Linked DNA regions of Homo sapiens. The protein of the gene in region 1 interacts with the protein of each later gene in a pairwise test. Each region holds a gene or a part of one and is shown on either strand. Other genes may lie near its edges.

Region 1 (7,996 bases):
CGGGAGGCCAGGAGAGAAGAGGGTGGGAGAGATGAGCTGCAGGGGGATACGGGACCCAGGGACCCGGGATCTTATAACACGCTTTCCACCCGTAGGATTGGGGCCCACAAATGACCAGAAAGGTGGGACTCATTCGCCCCCTTTGCAGATGGACCCATGTTGGCGCCCCTTAGATCTGCAGTGGGGGCACCAGGACCTGCGGTGAGCGCCTCTGCGCCCCAAACGCCAGCAGGTCCGCCCGACCGCATTCCCAGCTGGCTTGCTTTGCACAAATGCTGCGTCAGGGCACGCCCCACACCCACTCCTTCCCAGATCGCGACCCTCACGCCTTCGCAGACAGAAAGTGTCCTAAGCACAGGCAGGCTCAGAGCCCGCCTCCGCCTCGGATTCGCTGTGTGGCCCGGAGCCAGTATCTTGGCCTCTCTGGGTCTCAGTTTGCTCATCTCAGTGAATGGGACACAGACACAGTCGCGCTGCGGGCTAACGCTTTATTTGCCAGCCAAGGCCCCGGGCCCGCCTGGGCTTCTGCTCAGAAGATCCTCACGGAGTCCAGCTGCACGTCCCCGCCCACCTCCACCAGGCGCACGCGCGCCAGCGGCAGGCGGTGGCGGAAGTGGTGGTACTGGGCGTCCCCAACCACGGCCTGCAGGGGAGGGTCGGTGGTGAGGATTCCGGAGGCCCGTGCTGGGTGGCCCTGGGGAAATCACTCATCCCCTCTGGGCCTCAGTTTCCTCACTGGGAAAATGGGGCTATTGTTCATTCTAACTCTTGCGTGAGGATCAAACGAGTTGACTGTGTGGCACAGTAAAAAGAGGCTTTTTTAGTGCTGGTAATGGATATTCTCATTTCAGCGACCATTACCCGCTATTAAAGCGCAGAGGAGGGAGGTGAATTCGCGTAAGCTGTGGGTGGTGGAGGATCTGCCGCCACTCCCACCCGCCAATCCTTGCTAGGACGAGTTCCTGGGCGCTGTTTCCAACCCATCCCTCCCCATGCCTCAAACCCCGGACCTCAGGAAGGAATGAACTGGGAGTAGGGTCTGGGATGGCGAGTCTGGGCCACGCCTTCCCGCTAGGACGCCCACCCCTTGGACACTTGGCTGGTGCTCGCCTCGTCCTGACCCTGCTGTCTCTCTGTCCCTCGGACCCAAGTGGGAGTTGTTTAGGCGAGAGAGAGGGTCGAAGGACACCCTTCTCCGCCTTGGCCACGACTTCCCTACCCCCCTCACCCCGCCCCGAACCTCCCTGCCTTCCACCAATAGCCTGGCTTTGCCCAACCCTCTGCTCCAGGGACCTAAGTCTTGGCGTCCACGCCCCTGTCGCAGAGACGCACCTTGAAGCCGTCGTCTGACGCGATGATGAGCACCTCGAAGGGCTGCCCGCGCTGGAAAGGAACGCCCGGCCCGCGCTCCTCGCGGCCCCAGGAGCCTTGCTCCTTGCTGTTGAAGACCACCTCCGACGTGTCCAGCCGGGGGTTGAAATGCAGCGCGGCATCGGAGCCCTGCTCCTCCCCGCACAGCAGGTTTACATGGAACCTGGAAGAGGAGGATGGTGGCCGTCAGGGCTCAGAAACCACCCAGACCAAGAAATGTTGAGGGTGAGGAATACCGATGTCTACAATTTACTTTGAATGAATAAGTAAATGAAATGTTGGCTGGGTGCAGTGGCTCACCCTGTAATCCCAGCACTCTGGGAGGTGGAGAAGGGAGGATCGCTTGGGCCCGGAAGTTAAAGACCAGCCTGGGCAACATAGCGAGACCCCACCTTACAAAAAAACGAAAGAACAAACAAAACATAAACCGCCCAGACCAAAGTGAAGGTCTTATGGACTGGCACTCCCCATTCCCAGAGTACCCCCAAATTAACAGGGACCTGAAGACAGGCACACACCGCAGAAGGAGAGGTAGGCGACTAATGACCAGGGAGCTTAGATTCCCAAGGCAGCCAAAATATCATGAGGCCCTTGGCAGAAACCTACCCAGACCAAACTCACTACGCTTAGGGCAGGGTGCCCTCATTTCCAAAGAGCCTGGGAGCTGCCCAGGAGGTCTGGGTGATAGCCAGGGTGCTCCTGATGCTCAGGGAACCCTCAGCTTCTACAGGACAAAGAATAATACCAGGAACCCCAGTATTTCCAGGGTACCTCAGAATCCAGAAGGCCCGAAGTTCCTTAGCCAGGAAGTCAAAGGATGGCTTGGCAAGGACTCCCAGGGTCCAGGGTGTCTCCAGGACTTGGAGTATTTCCAGAGTTCCCTGGGACTCAGACATGGAAGTCATAGGACTATATCTAGGAACCCTGAGATTACCCAGGGACCTCAAATGCTTAGGGAAACTTAGGGACCCCAGCCACAAAGGCACGGGGGCAAATACGAATACATCAGATTTGAGGTCAGAAATGGCCTCGGACTCCTAGCCTGGTGGATACAGGTGGCCTCGGGCCCCTACTTCTGGACTGCAAAAATTGGGAGTCAGCTGATCCTGAGACCTGTACCCTTTACCCCTAGGGCCTGGGGCCTCACCTGCTGGCATTGGGAGGAACCAAGCCGCGAATTCTCAGCACCGTGCCAGGGCGGATGCCCTCGGGCAGTGAGGACTTGTGGGGGACGTTCTGCAAGAGTGGGGTGCAGGGGCCACTGTGAGCCGGTGAGACCGAAGGAGGGAGGCAGAAGGTGGGTCACCCCTCAGAGGAGCCGACCAGGGCTGAGACTGGCAGAAATCAGTGGAAGAGGAAAGGGTGGCGGAGAGGCAGGAAAGAGACCAGAAACAGACAGGGAAACAGATGGGGAGAGCAACAAAGACAAACAGAAAGATCCTCAAAGAGGGCCCCAGAGGAAGCCACAAAGAGGTAGAGGGGACAGTCGGGATGGGGGTTACCCGGAGGCCACAGCCCAGGCCAGTCCGTGGCACACTCACTGCCCACTTGCTCCTTTGAAAGAGGAGCCCCCAGCCCCCTCCCTGCTTGGCCCCGCCCCGGGCCCCTGGAGCACTCACGGACATGGCTGGGACCGGGTTGGGCAGCCGTGGTGGTGGGGCCTGCTGGGGACCTTAAATAAAAGCAGGGCGGGGCTGGCCCTGATGACTCACCCCACCCCTTCCCACCCACCACCCACACCTGGCACGGACCCTGGCCCTGGGGCAAGCCCGGCGAAGCGGGAGTGGCACCTCTTCTTGGGGGCCCTGATCCCCCCATCACCCAGGGCCCGGGTGCACTGCCCCTCTCCTAGGAGCTGATAATAAGAGGGAATGTTTAATAGTAATAAACTCACAGCAGAGAAGGCTCCTTGTGCCACTGCCCCTCCACCCCTGTCTTCCCGCTGCCTGGCACACGGAGAGCCTCTATCTCATTTCATGTATTTATTTGTTAGTAATTTCTCTTATTTTATACACAGACATATTAGGTCCTGGGAGGCCAATCTGGGTGGGAACTCCAGACCCTTCTCTCCAGCTGAGAACCTCCTGCCTGGACTGATCCGTGCTGAAATCTAAGCTTCTGCCTCTGTAATGGAACAGCGGCCACAATAGGAGCACTAGTGACTGACAGGGTGGCTTCATGGGTTCACAGGGGGCCTGCCTGATCCCCTCAGCGCTGCACCCCTGGGTCCTGGAGTGTGCCCAGTTCATGGAAGTCCTCAGTCAGGAGGGGTGAAAGGAGGGGATCCACTAGGACTATGCCTGTCATTTCCAAGGCCCCTCGGCTGCCCAGGAGATGCAGGAAATCACTGATTGGGACCCCATCATTCCAACAGGGAGGAGTATGGGTCACCCCCATTGTACAGAGGAGGAGGCTGAAGCTGGGATGGGAAGCGATTTGCCAAAGGCAGGAGCGTGCAGGACCCGTTGCCCTGACCTCTGGCTCTCCTCACCTCTGCTCGCACCTCTCCTGTGGGTTCTGTCTCTGGGGCTGGCTGTCTCACTCTGTCCGTCTCTGCCCCTAACTCTGTCTACCACATATTCCTGTCCCACTTCTCTCCTTCAAGTCTCTCTTCTTCCTCCTTCCAGGACTGCTACCATCATGCCACCAAGTTTGTAGGTCAGGATGAGGTGGGTTTTGGGGTGGTGGGTGGCCTAGCATTCCATCACCACCTAGATCAAAAGCAGAGCAAGGCGGGGACCCTCCCGCCAGGCCCGAAACAGCCCCCTTGGGCCTAAGACTCTGCAAGAGAACTCAGGGTTGGGGAATTGGCTTGGTGGAGGGGCGGGTAGGGCTGAAAGATGCTTCTGAAAGGCAGGGATGGTGTGGGAGCTGAGCAGAAACCACTCCTAGCAGCCCAGCAGCCCTCCTGGACCTTTTCCACTCGCCACTCCAGCTCCTGCCCCACCCAGCAGGCTGCTGAGAGGCCTGGGCAGAGGCAGGCTGGCAGTGGAAAGTTTGGGTGGAGACAGCAGACCCAGAACCATCCTCCACCCTCTGCGTCCCAGGCCCCCAGCCTCTCGCCCCCTCCCCACACACTCCAAGGCACCAAGCTCAGGGACCAGTTCTTGGGAACATGAGCTCAGAGAGGGAGGCTAGCAGCTGCATTTCAGTAGGGGCTGCAAGCACCCCCATTCTGCAGAGGACAAAACTGAGGCTTAGACAGGGGCCACCTCTCAGTCAAGGAAGAGGCCAGCCCCTCAGCTCCAGAGGGGTCTTTGTGCCAAGGACATGTCATGGGCACGGACAGAGAGGATAGCAGGGTGTCCGGTGATCATACCACCAGCCCAGCTCAGTTAGTTCCCGAGAATGTTCCCCTGAATGGTGGACTCCATTGTTCTAACATTATTGACCATTCTAAAGAAGACACTCTCGCCTGGGCAACACAGCAAGACCTCATCACTACAAAAAATAAAAATAAAATAAAATAGCCCAGTGGGTTGGCGCACATCTGCCTGTAATTCCAGCTACTTGGGAGGCTGAGGCAGGAGAATTGCTTGAGCCCAGGAGATCAGAGGCTGCAGGGAGCTATGATCACACCACAGCTCTCCAGCCTGGGCAACACAGTGAGACCTCAGTCCACAAAAAGAAAAGACACTCCTTACATTACTTGATACATCATTCTGTACCTTGCTATTGTTTCCCAAGAACATCTTTTTATTTATTTCTATTTCTTCACTGTGGCTGGATATGACTTCACACCCAACCAACGTGCAAGTCCCAACTTGCCTTAAGTGATTGGTCAAATGGTTGCAGTCAATCTGTTACCAGTCTAAAAGGCTGGCTCCTTTCCTGTAACTGAGATATGCATCCTCGATGGGCTCTTATTCATTAGTGTTGGTTATGTTTCTCATCAGTTGTGAAACAATATTTTCTTTTGTTTTTTTTTTCTTTTGTTTTTTTTTTGAGACAGAGGCTCACCCTGTCACCCAGGCTGGAGTGCAGTGGTGCGATCTCGGCTCGCTGCAACCTCCACCTCCCGGGTTGAAGTGATTCTTTGGCCTCAGCCTCCTGAGTAGCTGGGATTACAGGCACCCACCAACATGCCTGGCTAATTTTTTTGTTTGTTTGTTTTTGGTTTTTTTTGAGACAGAGTCTTGCTCTGCCGCCCAGGCTGGAGTGCAGTGGCACCATTTCGGCTCACTGCAAGCTCCGCCTCCCTGGTTCACGCCATTCTCCTGCCTCAGCCTCCTGAGTAGCTGGGACTACAGGCTCCCGCCACCACGCCCAGCTAATTTTTTGCATTTTTGGTAGAGACGGGGTTTCACTGTATTAGCCAGGATGGTCTCGGTCTCCTGACCTCATGATCCGCCCGCCTCGGCCTCCCAAAGTGCTGGGATTACAGGCATAAGCCACCGCGCCTGGCCTAATTTTTGTATTTTTAGTAGAGACAGGGTTTCGCCATGTTGGTCAGGCTGGTCTCGAACTCCTGACCTCGTGATCTGCCCTCCTCGGCCTCCCAAAGTGTTGGGATTACAGGTGTGAGCCACTGCGCCTGGCCTGAAATAATATTTTCGTGAGCCTTTTTTCTTTTTCTTTCTCGTTTTTTGAGACAGAGTCTCGCTCTGTTGCCCAGGCAGGAGTGCAGTGGTTTGATCTTGGCTCACTGCAACCTCTGCCTTCCAGGTTCAAGTGATTCTCCTGCCTCAGCCTCCCAAGTAGCTGGGATTTCAGGTGCCTGCCACCACGCCTGGCTACTTTTTGTATTTTTAGTAGAGACGGGGTTTCACCATGTTGGCCAGACTGGCCTTGAACTCCTGACCTCAGGTGATCCACCTGCCTCAGCCTCCCAAAGTGCTGTGATTGCAAGTGTGAACCAACGCACCTGGTCACCTTTTTTCAATTTTAAATAGTTAATGTAGGCCGGGTGTGGTGGTGCACACCTGCATTCCCAGCTACTCGAGAGGCCGAGGCAGGAGAATTGCTTGAACCCAGGAGGCAGAAATTGTAGTGAGCCAAGATAGCTCCATTGCGCTTTAGCCTGGGCAAAAAGAACAAGACTCTGTCTCAAAAAGTATATATAATAATAATAATAATAATAATAATAATAATAAATGTATATATTTCTCAATAGTCTTTCTATCAAGGTATCCTTCCCATAAAATAAAAGATGCAGATATTAAAGGTATAGTTCACTGATTTTGAGAACTGTGGAGACCTATCTAACCACCTCCTCAATTAAGTTTCCTGGTGTCCAGGAAATAGTGGCCTCTCTTCTAGTTCCAGGAAGCCACTGGCCAGTGTCACTCCTGACCATTTTTTTGTTTTGTTTTGTTTTGTTTTGTTTTTGAGATGGGGGTCTCACTCTGTCACCCAGGCTGGAGTGCAGTGGTGCAGTCTCCGCTCACTGCAGCCTCAATCTTCCAAGCTTAAACCTCCTGGGCTCACCACCTCAGCCTCCCGAGTAGCTGGGGCTACAGACACACGCCACCATGCCTGGCTAATTGTGTATTTTTTGTAGAGAGAGGGTTTTACGATGTTGCCTAGGCTGGTGTTGAACTCCTGGAGTCAAGCGATCTGCCTGCCTTAGCCTCCCAAAGTGCTGGGATTACAGGCATGAGCCACTGGGCCTGGCCACTGCTGAGCATTGACTAGCCACCGAGGTTCTTTTGTCTCAAAATAAAGAAGAGGGAGTAGACTGATTTTTCTTACTTTATGCCTCTTTTAGGAAATAATTTAGATGAAAAGTAGCTAATTGCACACTAGGTGGTTGTAGAGATTTAAAATTCAGGCTCCATGAATGTCATTTGTTGGTCACATTTTGGTTATTTTTTATACACAGTGAAGGTAATTCTGGGGCTGCTTTTTGTAAATCAACATTCTGATGATGAAAATGACACTTAGAAATCTCACTTTGGCTGGGCACGGTGGCTCATGCCTATAATCCCAACACTTTGGGAGGCCGAGGCGGGCGGATCACCTGAGGTCAGGAGTTCGAGACCAGCCTGGCCAATAGGGTGAAACCCCGTCTCTACTAAAAATAGAAAAAATTAGCCGGGCATGGTGGCAGGCACCTGTAATGCCAGCTACTTGGGGGGCTGAGGCAGGAGAATCGCTTGAACCTGGGAGGCAGAGGTTGCAGTGAGCCAAGATCACGCCATTGCACTCCAGCCTGGGGGACAAGATCGAGACTTCCTCTCAAAAAAAAAAAAAAAAAGGAAAGAAATCTCACTTTGTTCTTGGCCAGGCGCAGTGGTTCACCCTGTAATCCCAGCACCTTGGGAGGCCAAGGCGGTGGATCACCTGAGGTCAGGAATTTGAGACCAGCCTGGCCAACATAGTGAAACCCTGCCTCTACTAAAAATACCAAAAAATTATATATATCTATATTAGCTGGGTGTGGTGGCACACACCTGTGATCCTAGCTACTTGGGAGGCTGAAGCAGGAGAATCACCTGAACCCGGGAGACGGAGGTTGTGGTGTGTGATCGCACCACTGCACTTGAGCCTGGGCGACAGAGCAAGACTCCATCAAAAAAAGACCAAACAAAAAAACAAAAACAAAAACAAAAAAACCCCAGAAACTCACTTTGTTCTTAAGCTTTTATGCCCATTGGAAATCTCACGACTCTATTTTTATAAATAT
Region 2 (7,023 bases), on another chromosome or scaffold:
CAGGACAGGGCAAAGGCTGGTTCAAAACACCACTGTCACTGGTGCCAAAATGTCCTCTATTAATCAGAGCAGCAGCTTTGCTGTCTTCACTGCAGGTTCTTGTGTGATGGAGCTTTCCACATGTCAGTCCTGCCTCTGGCCCAGCACTGCAAGGCACCGGCTGCTTCCTGCAGATCAATGTCTTTGACAAAGCCCTTCAGCCTCGAAGGGGTGTGCACCCTGCAGAGGCAGCACTGCAGACGGCTGGGAGGCAGGAGACAGTGCGGAAGCTAAGAGCAAAGGCTTGGCGTAGGCCCAGCTGGTGTGACCTCTGGCCCCCTCAGTCTCACACAACGGAGGTTAAGTGTTGTTCCAGGGGTTAGGTAAGACAGTCCAACCTGGCACTCAGCAAGGCAACTGCTCAGAGAAACTGCCAGGCCTATGACAGCTCGTATGATTACTACAACTTCTTTCTGGGAGGCTTCTGTCAAACCCCACCAGCCCCAGGACACTGGTGACACTGACACCTTCTCCCCCTGTGTGAGATCTGCTGAGAATCACTGGCAATGGAGCCTGAGGTCGTGAAGGGCAGGAAAAGGCTGGCACCACCCCTCTCCGGGAACAGAAGCCCATCTTCTCATCTGAAATGGGCCTGAGACATGCTCCTGAAAGCAGATGCCAGGAGGAAAACTGCCAACAGCGCAAGCAGAAAGGTGGAACCAGTCAATGAGGGCGGCGGCCCCTCAGAAAGGGGAGGCAAGGTCCTTCCTGGACGCCCAGGGATGGCTCCTGCACCTGGAGGCTGAGCACCTGACCACATAGGAAAGAAAGGGGTAGCTCTAAATGACCCCATTTCTACCAGGCCTTGCCCTGCTCCCACCTCACACCTCTCTCCAAGCTCCCATCCCTAAATCCCCCCGTCTCCAGCAGTACCTCCTCTGCCAGCCATTGAAGGCCTGCTGCTCGCTGGCTGGTCCTGGACTCCTGTTGGGTGGGGGGGCCTACGCTGGGAGCTGCTCCTCTACTGGGGTGAAGGGGCCGGCAGGATCTTCACACCAACCCTGGCAACATGCTAGAGGTGCAGGGCCCAAGCCTTGGGGTGGGGGACATGATGTGGCTGGGTCACTGTTGGCCCCGGCACCATTACCTGCAGCAGCACACGCCGCACATCGGCCTCGGCGTGCTCGGCATTCAGCTGGCCCAGCAGGAGCTCTGCGGACAGCCGCTGGGCCACGAAGTTGGTCACTCGGTTGCCATCATAGCCGTTGAAGACCCCATACAGGAAGCAGTTGTTCTCACTCCTGGAAGAGGGAGAGGGCAGAGGGAGGCCTGAGACCAGGGTCTCACGGAGGTGGAGGGAGAAAGGGAAAGGAATTGGGGGAGACTAAAGCGACAGCAGCTGCAGCTTCAGGGGCCCTCCTGGGTCCCCCTGCTTTAGCCATCATTTCACTCTGGCTATGACATTCTGGGATACCCTCCTCCCCATGCTCACGCTACCCCATCAGAGCAGGCCCTTGGCAAGACAGCAGCAGAGGCCACCTCTCACGGGCCACATGTCACTGGCAAGCCCATACGAGAAAGCTGCAAGGTCGGTGTCTTTCCTTGCTTGCAAACCAACCAACTCCCCGGGCCCAACACAGAAATGCTGGCACACACACCTGAACTTGAGCCAGCTGTCCTCTGGCGGGTGGCTCTCAGTGCCCTTGCCATCAGCAGAGTAGCTGCGGTTGGAGGCTGAGCCAACCCCAGAGAGGTGGCAGAGAGGCAGGTCATCTGTCCAGCTTGGCTGCTGCTCCTGGGGAAGGACACCAGGAAGCCGTGAGACGCCACCGCGTCTGCAGGGTAGTCCCCACTTCACCTATTCCTTCTGCAACAAAAACCTAGCAGGCCCGCAGCCCTACACAGAGGGTTCCACTTCCTTCTGGAAAACAATAATGTTTGTATGAACAGACACCTGCAGAAGGGTTTGCTGTTTTTATGGCTAGTCTACAAACTTGTTTCCCAGGAAAACTGAGACTCCACCATTCCCAAATGTAAGGCGCAGCAATGACCTCCAGGAGTGAGCCGTTATGAAACCTAGTGAAACACACACAAATGTCGCAGACTCTTGGCAGGAAACTCTGGGGACCCCACCTCTTACTGCACTGGCTCCAAATGCACACTACAAAGAAATCCCTTGAGCATTGGTTACCAACACTGCAGGCTGCAGGCCCCACCCTCAGAATGACTGATCTGGGCAGGGCCCGGGACATCTGCAGTGCAGGCCGCTCCCCATGGGTGATGCTTTCAGGTGACCTAAGACCCAGCCTGGAGAAACTCCGACTTATAAGCTAGCCTCAGTCACTCTCTCTGGCACTGGGACCTCCAAGTACCAGGGAGAGTAACTGAGACTGGCTTTTAAGTCGGAGTTTATGAGCTAGTTTATAGGACATCCTCATGCCACCCCGATGTCCTCTCCCATCTCCCCTGCCACATCCTTCCCTCCCAGTCCCAAATGCCTACAGCCCTGTCCATCCCCTGCTCTTTGCCTCCACATGAACACCCTCCCTCTTCTTCCCTACCAATTCTCCGGGTCCTTCGGGACTCTTTGGCTCAGGAGTCACCACCTCCAGGAGGTCTTCCTTCAGGATGACCCTACCCAGGACTGGCTGATGGCCCTCTCATGTACCCCAACGGCACCCTGATTCCAGCATCCCTGCCTGTCTGCAATGCCCATTCTACCCCATAGGATCTCAAACCAGGCTGTTCAGCATAATCACTGCAGAGCTTTAAACACGCTCACACAGCGGTCCAGGCCCTGGCCCCATCCCCGGCCTAAACACAATTTCTGAATTTCCCAGATCTCCCTAGGGTACATCCTGAGCATCTGTACTTTTTAAGCCCCAGGAACAACTTTGATGCAAGGCCCAGGTGCAATTCCCTGCCTCTCCCTGAAAGCTTGCCCCAAATCTGGCCTCCCACCTGAAAACTGCGCTTTGTTCACAACGGCACTCCCAGAACCACCATGCAGAACTACAGCAAACTGGAATAACTGGGAGAACCACAGTTCAATTTCAAGGAAAATAAAATTTGTATTGGCTGGGTGCAGTGGCTCACGCCCGTAATCCCAGCACTTTGGGAAGCTGAGGTGGGTGGACCATTTGATGTCAGAAATTTGAGACCGGCCTAGCCAACCTGGTGAAACCCCATCTCTGTCTCTGTTAAAAACACAAAAAAATTAGCCAGGCATGGTGGTGCATGCCTGTAATCCCAGCTACTGGGGAGGCTGAGGCAGGAGAATCGCTTAAACCCAGGAGTCGGAGGTTGCAGCGAGCTGAGATCATGCCACTGCACTCTAGCCTGGGCGACAAGAGTGAGATTCTGTCTCAAAAAAAAAAAAATTGTATTGAAAGCTTTATTGAAATATTAAACAAACACAAGCTAGAGCAACCAGATAAGAGAAAGAAATAGAGGGCATCCAAACTGGCAAGGAAGATGTTAAATGATCCTTGTTTGCAGACGATATAATCTTATATTTGGAAAAACCTAGATTCCACCAAAAAACTATTAGAACTGATTAAACAAATTCAGTAAAGTGGCAGGATATGGGCCGGGCGCGGTGGCTCAAGCCTGTAATCCCAGCACTTTGGGAGGCTGAGGCAGGTGGATCATGAGGTCAGAAGATCGAGACCATCCTGGCTAACATGGTGAAACCCTATCTCTACTAAAAATACAAAAAACTAGCCGGGTGTGGTGGCGGGCGCCTGTAGTCCCAGCTACTCTGGAGGCTGAGGCAGGAGAATGGCATGAACCCGGGAGGCGGAGCTTGCAGTGAGCCGAGATCGTGCAACTGCACTCCAGCCTGGGTGACAGAGCGAGACTCCATCTCAAAAAAAGACTCCATCTCAAAAAAAAAAAAAAAAAAAAAAGTTGCAGGATATGGAATCAACATACAAAAATCAGTAGCATTTCTATATGCCAACAGTGAATCATCTGTAAAAGAAATAAAACACACACAGATACTGTGTGCAACTTCTTAAAAGTTATTGTTAAGTCTTCCAGAAAGGATGTGGAAACCACTTCAACAGGCTTTTGCAATCATATATATAAAAAGCCTGTGGTTAGCTTTTGTGGCAAATTGTAGCTTCTGTTTAGTTATATACTGACAGGAGTGACTTCACTTTTTTTCATATAATTGGTTTTATTCTGCTTTTATCTATTTTGGTGCTTCAGCTCTACATTTTGCACCCTGGAGCAACTTCTGCAGGGTGTGGGAGTTTGTTTTATTTTTACATTAACATGGAGTAAAACTGGCTTCTGGGGCACGCACATCTGTGAATGTTGACACATGTAGAGATGTGTGTAACTACCACCACTCTCAGGATACAGGGCAGCTCCACTCCCAACGCACTCCCTCCCCTAATCCCTGGCAACCTATTTTCCACTGCTATGGCTTTGTCTTTTTAAGAATGTCATATTAAACGCCAGGTGCAGTGGCTCACGCCTGTAATCCCAGCACTTTAGGAGGCCAAGAGGGGCTCATCACTTGAGGCCAGGAATTTGAGACCAGCCTGGCCAATGTGGCGAAACCCTGTCTCTACTGAAAATACAAAAATCAGCCGGGCGTGGTGGCGCACACCTGTAATTCCAGCTACTCAAGAGGCTGAGGCACGAGAATCACCTGAACCTGAGAGGCAGAGGTTGCCATGAGCCGAGATTGCACACCACTGCACTCCAGCCTGGGCGACGGAGTGAGACTCTGTCTCCAAACAAAACAAAACAAAACAAAACAATGTCACACAATGTCACATAAATGAAATGATGCAGTAAACATGACCTCCTGAGACTGGCTTCTTTCACTCAACATTATGTCTCTAAGACTCATCCAAGTTGTTAGCCTGTGTGCATCAACAGTCTCTCTCTCTCTTTCATAGAGTAATATACCATTGTTCGGATGTAGTAAAGTTTGTTTATCCATTCATCCACTGAAGGACATTTGGGCTGTTTCGTTTCTTATAACTATGAAGAAATATGCTATAAACATTCATGTACAGGTTTTTGTATGAATGTAACTTTTCATTTATCCAGGGTAAATACCTAGGAGTGACAGGGCTGGCTCATATGGTAAGTATATGTTTAACTTTATAAGAACCTGCCAAACTGTTTTCCAGAGCAGCTGAACCATTTGCATTTCCAATGTTGAGTTCCGGCTGCTCCACGTCCTTGCCACCATGTGGTATTGTCTTTTTCTGAATTTAGATATTCTAAGAGGTGGGTAGTGGTAGCTCATCGTGACTTTAATCTGCACTTCCTAACGGCTAACGACACTGAGTATCTTTCACGTGTTTATTTGGCACCAACTCATCCTCTTTGGTGAAGTGCAAGTTTTTTGCCTATTTTTAAATTAGGTTATTTTCTTAACTATTGTGTTCTGAGAGTTCTTTTTATTTGTAACTTAGCATTTCACTCAGTAGTGTCTTTTGCAGAGCAAAGGTTTTAGTTTAGATGAAGTCCATTTAATCCATTTTTTCTCTTTCATGGTTCATGCTTTTGGAGTCATGTTTAAGAACTCTCTGTCCAGTCCCAAGTTACAAAGAGCACCTATGTTTTTTTCTAAAAGTTTTATAGTTTTATATTTTACATTTAGATCTGTGATCCATTTTGAATTAATTTCTGTGTAAGGTAGGAAGGAGGTTTAGGTCCATTTTTTTTTTCATTCCAATATCCAATCATTCCAACACCATTTGTTGAAAAGACTAGCTTTTCTCCATTGAATTGTGTGGGTCTACTTCTAGACTCTATTCTGTTCCTGTGATCGATGTGTCTACCCCTCCACCAATACTACATTCTTGATTACTGTAGCTTTATAGTAAGTCTTTAAATTGGCTAGTGTGAGTCTCCTTATCTTCTTGCTCTTTTTCAAAATTGTTTTGGCTATTTGAGTTCCTTTGCCTTTTCATATAAATTTTAGAATCAGCTTACTTATATCCACAAGTCTTGTTGGGATTTTTATTGGAACTGCTTTAAATCTACAGATCAATTTGGGGAAAGTAGACATTGTCACTATGTTGAGTCTTCTAATCCATTAACATGGTGTGTCTCTACACTTATTTATGTCTTCACTGGGTGACTTTTATTTATTTATTTTTATTAACACAATTTTACTACAAGGTCTGAAAAGCTACTAACGCCTTCTAATAGCCTTTGAAAATAGACAGTATAACCAAACCCTACTAATGGAAATGAAAAAAAAAAGGAAGATGAAATGGCAGTAAGTGCTAGCTGAGCCAAGTATGTCACAACTAAATTAAAAAAAAAAAAAAGTAGAAATGGCAACAATTCTGCTCAGCTCCTCATGACACCAGGCTTAAATTTAACACTTTCAGTACAAGCAACGCCAAAAGAAAAACTGCTGACCTGGCACAGTGGCTCACGCCTGTAATCCCAGCACTTGGGGAGGCTGAGGCAGGTGGATCACTTGAGGTCAGGAGTTTGAGACTAGCCTGGGCAATGTGGCAAAATCCTGTCTCTACTAAAAATACAAAAATTAGCCAGGCGTGGTGGTGCGCACCTGTAATTCCAACTACTCAGGAGGCTGAGGCAGGAGAATCACTTGAATGCAGGAGGTGGAGGTTGCAGTGAGCTGAGATCACACCACTGCACTCCAGCCTGGATGACAGAGTGAGACTCAGTCTCAAAAAGAAGAAGAAAAACGGCTTCACAGTAACACAAAATTGGGTCTAGTTCTAATCTTGAACTGTTTCATTTTAAAGCAAAATTAATGCCTCTCTTAACATAAATGGGAACTTAGGTCTTCCGGACCCACATATGATATTATGTGATTACAGTACATTAAATCACTACATACATTCTTTCAATAAATATCTGCTGAGCATTTGCAACAGTCTGGCAGTATTCTGGGTACTGCGGACACAGAAGAGAAAACAGAGAGGCTCCTTATTTGAAGCCTCCCTTCTAGGGAGAGAGAGAATTCAAACACACAATACAATAATAAGGCAATCTCAGACAGCGCTACGTGCTAGGAAGAAAACACACCATGGTAAT

What was found. Proteins that work in one complex are often made in the same cells at the same time.
Region 2: the proteins of LGALS7 (region 1) and TAB1 interact in binary tests that used the Homo sapiens proteins (3 or more experiments, as listed by UniProt).

Annotation. Positions count from the first base shown.
Region 1 is NC_000019.10:38,770,497-38,778,492, forward strand, and holds LGALS7 (galectin-7), read right to left. Parts: upstream 3,022-7,996; 5' UTR 2,997-3,021; coding exon 2,991-2,996; intron 2,608-2,990; coding exon 2,519-2,607; intron 1,535-2,518; coding exon 1,333-1,534; intron 644-1,332; coding exon 530-643; 3' UTR 472-529; downstream 1-471. UniProt on the Homo sapiens protein: Could be involved in cell-cell and/or cell-matrix interactions necessary for normal growth control. Pro-apoptotic protein that functions intracellularly upstream of JNK activation and cytochrome c release.
Region 2 is NC_000022.11:39,409,757-39,416,779, reverse strand, and holds part of TAB1 (TGF-beta-activated kinase 1 and MAP3K7-binding protein 1), read right to left. Parts: intron 1,775-7,023; coding exon 1,638-1,774; intron 1,281-1,637; coding exon 1,127-1,280; intron 1-1,126. UniProt on the Homo sapiens protein: Key adapter protein that plays an essential role in JNK and NF-kappa-B activation and proinflammatory cytokines production in response to stimulation with TLRs and cytokines.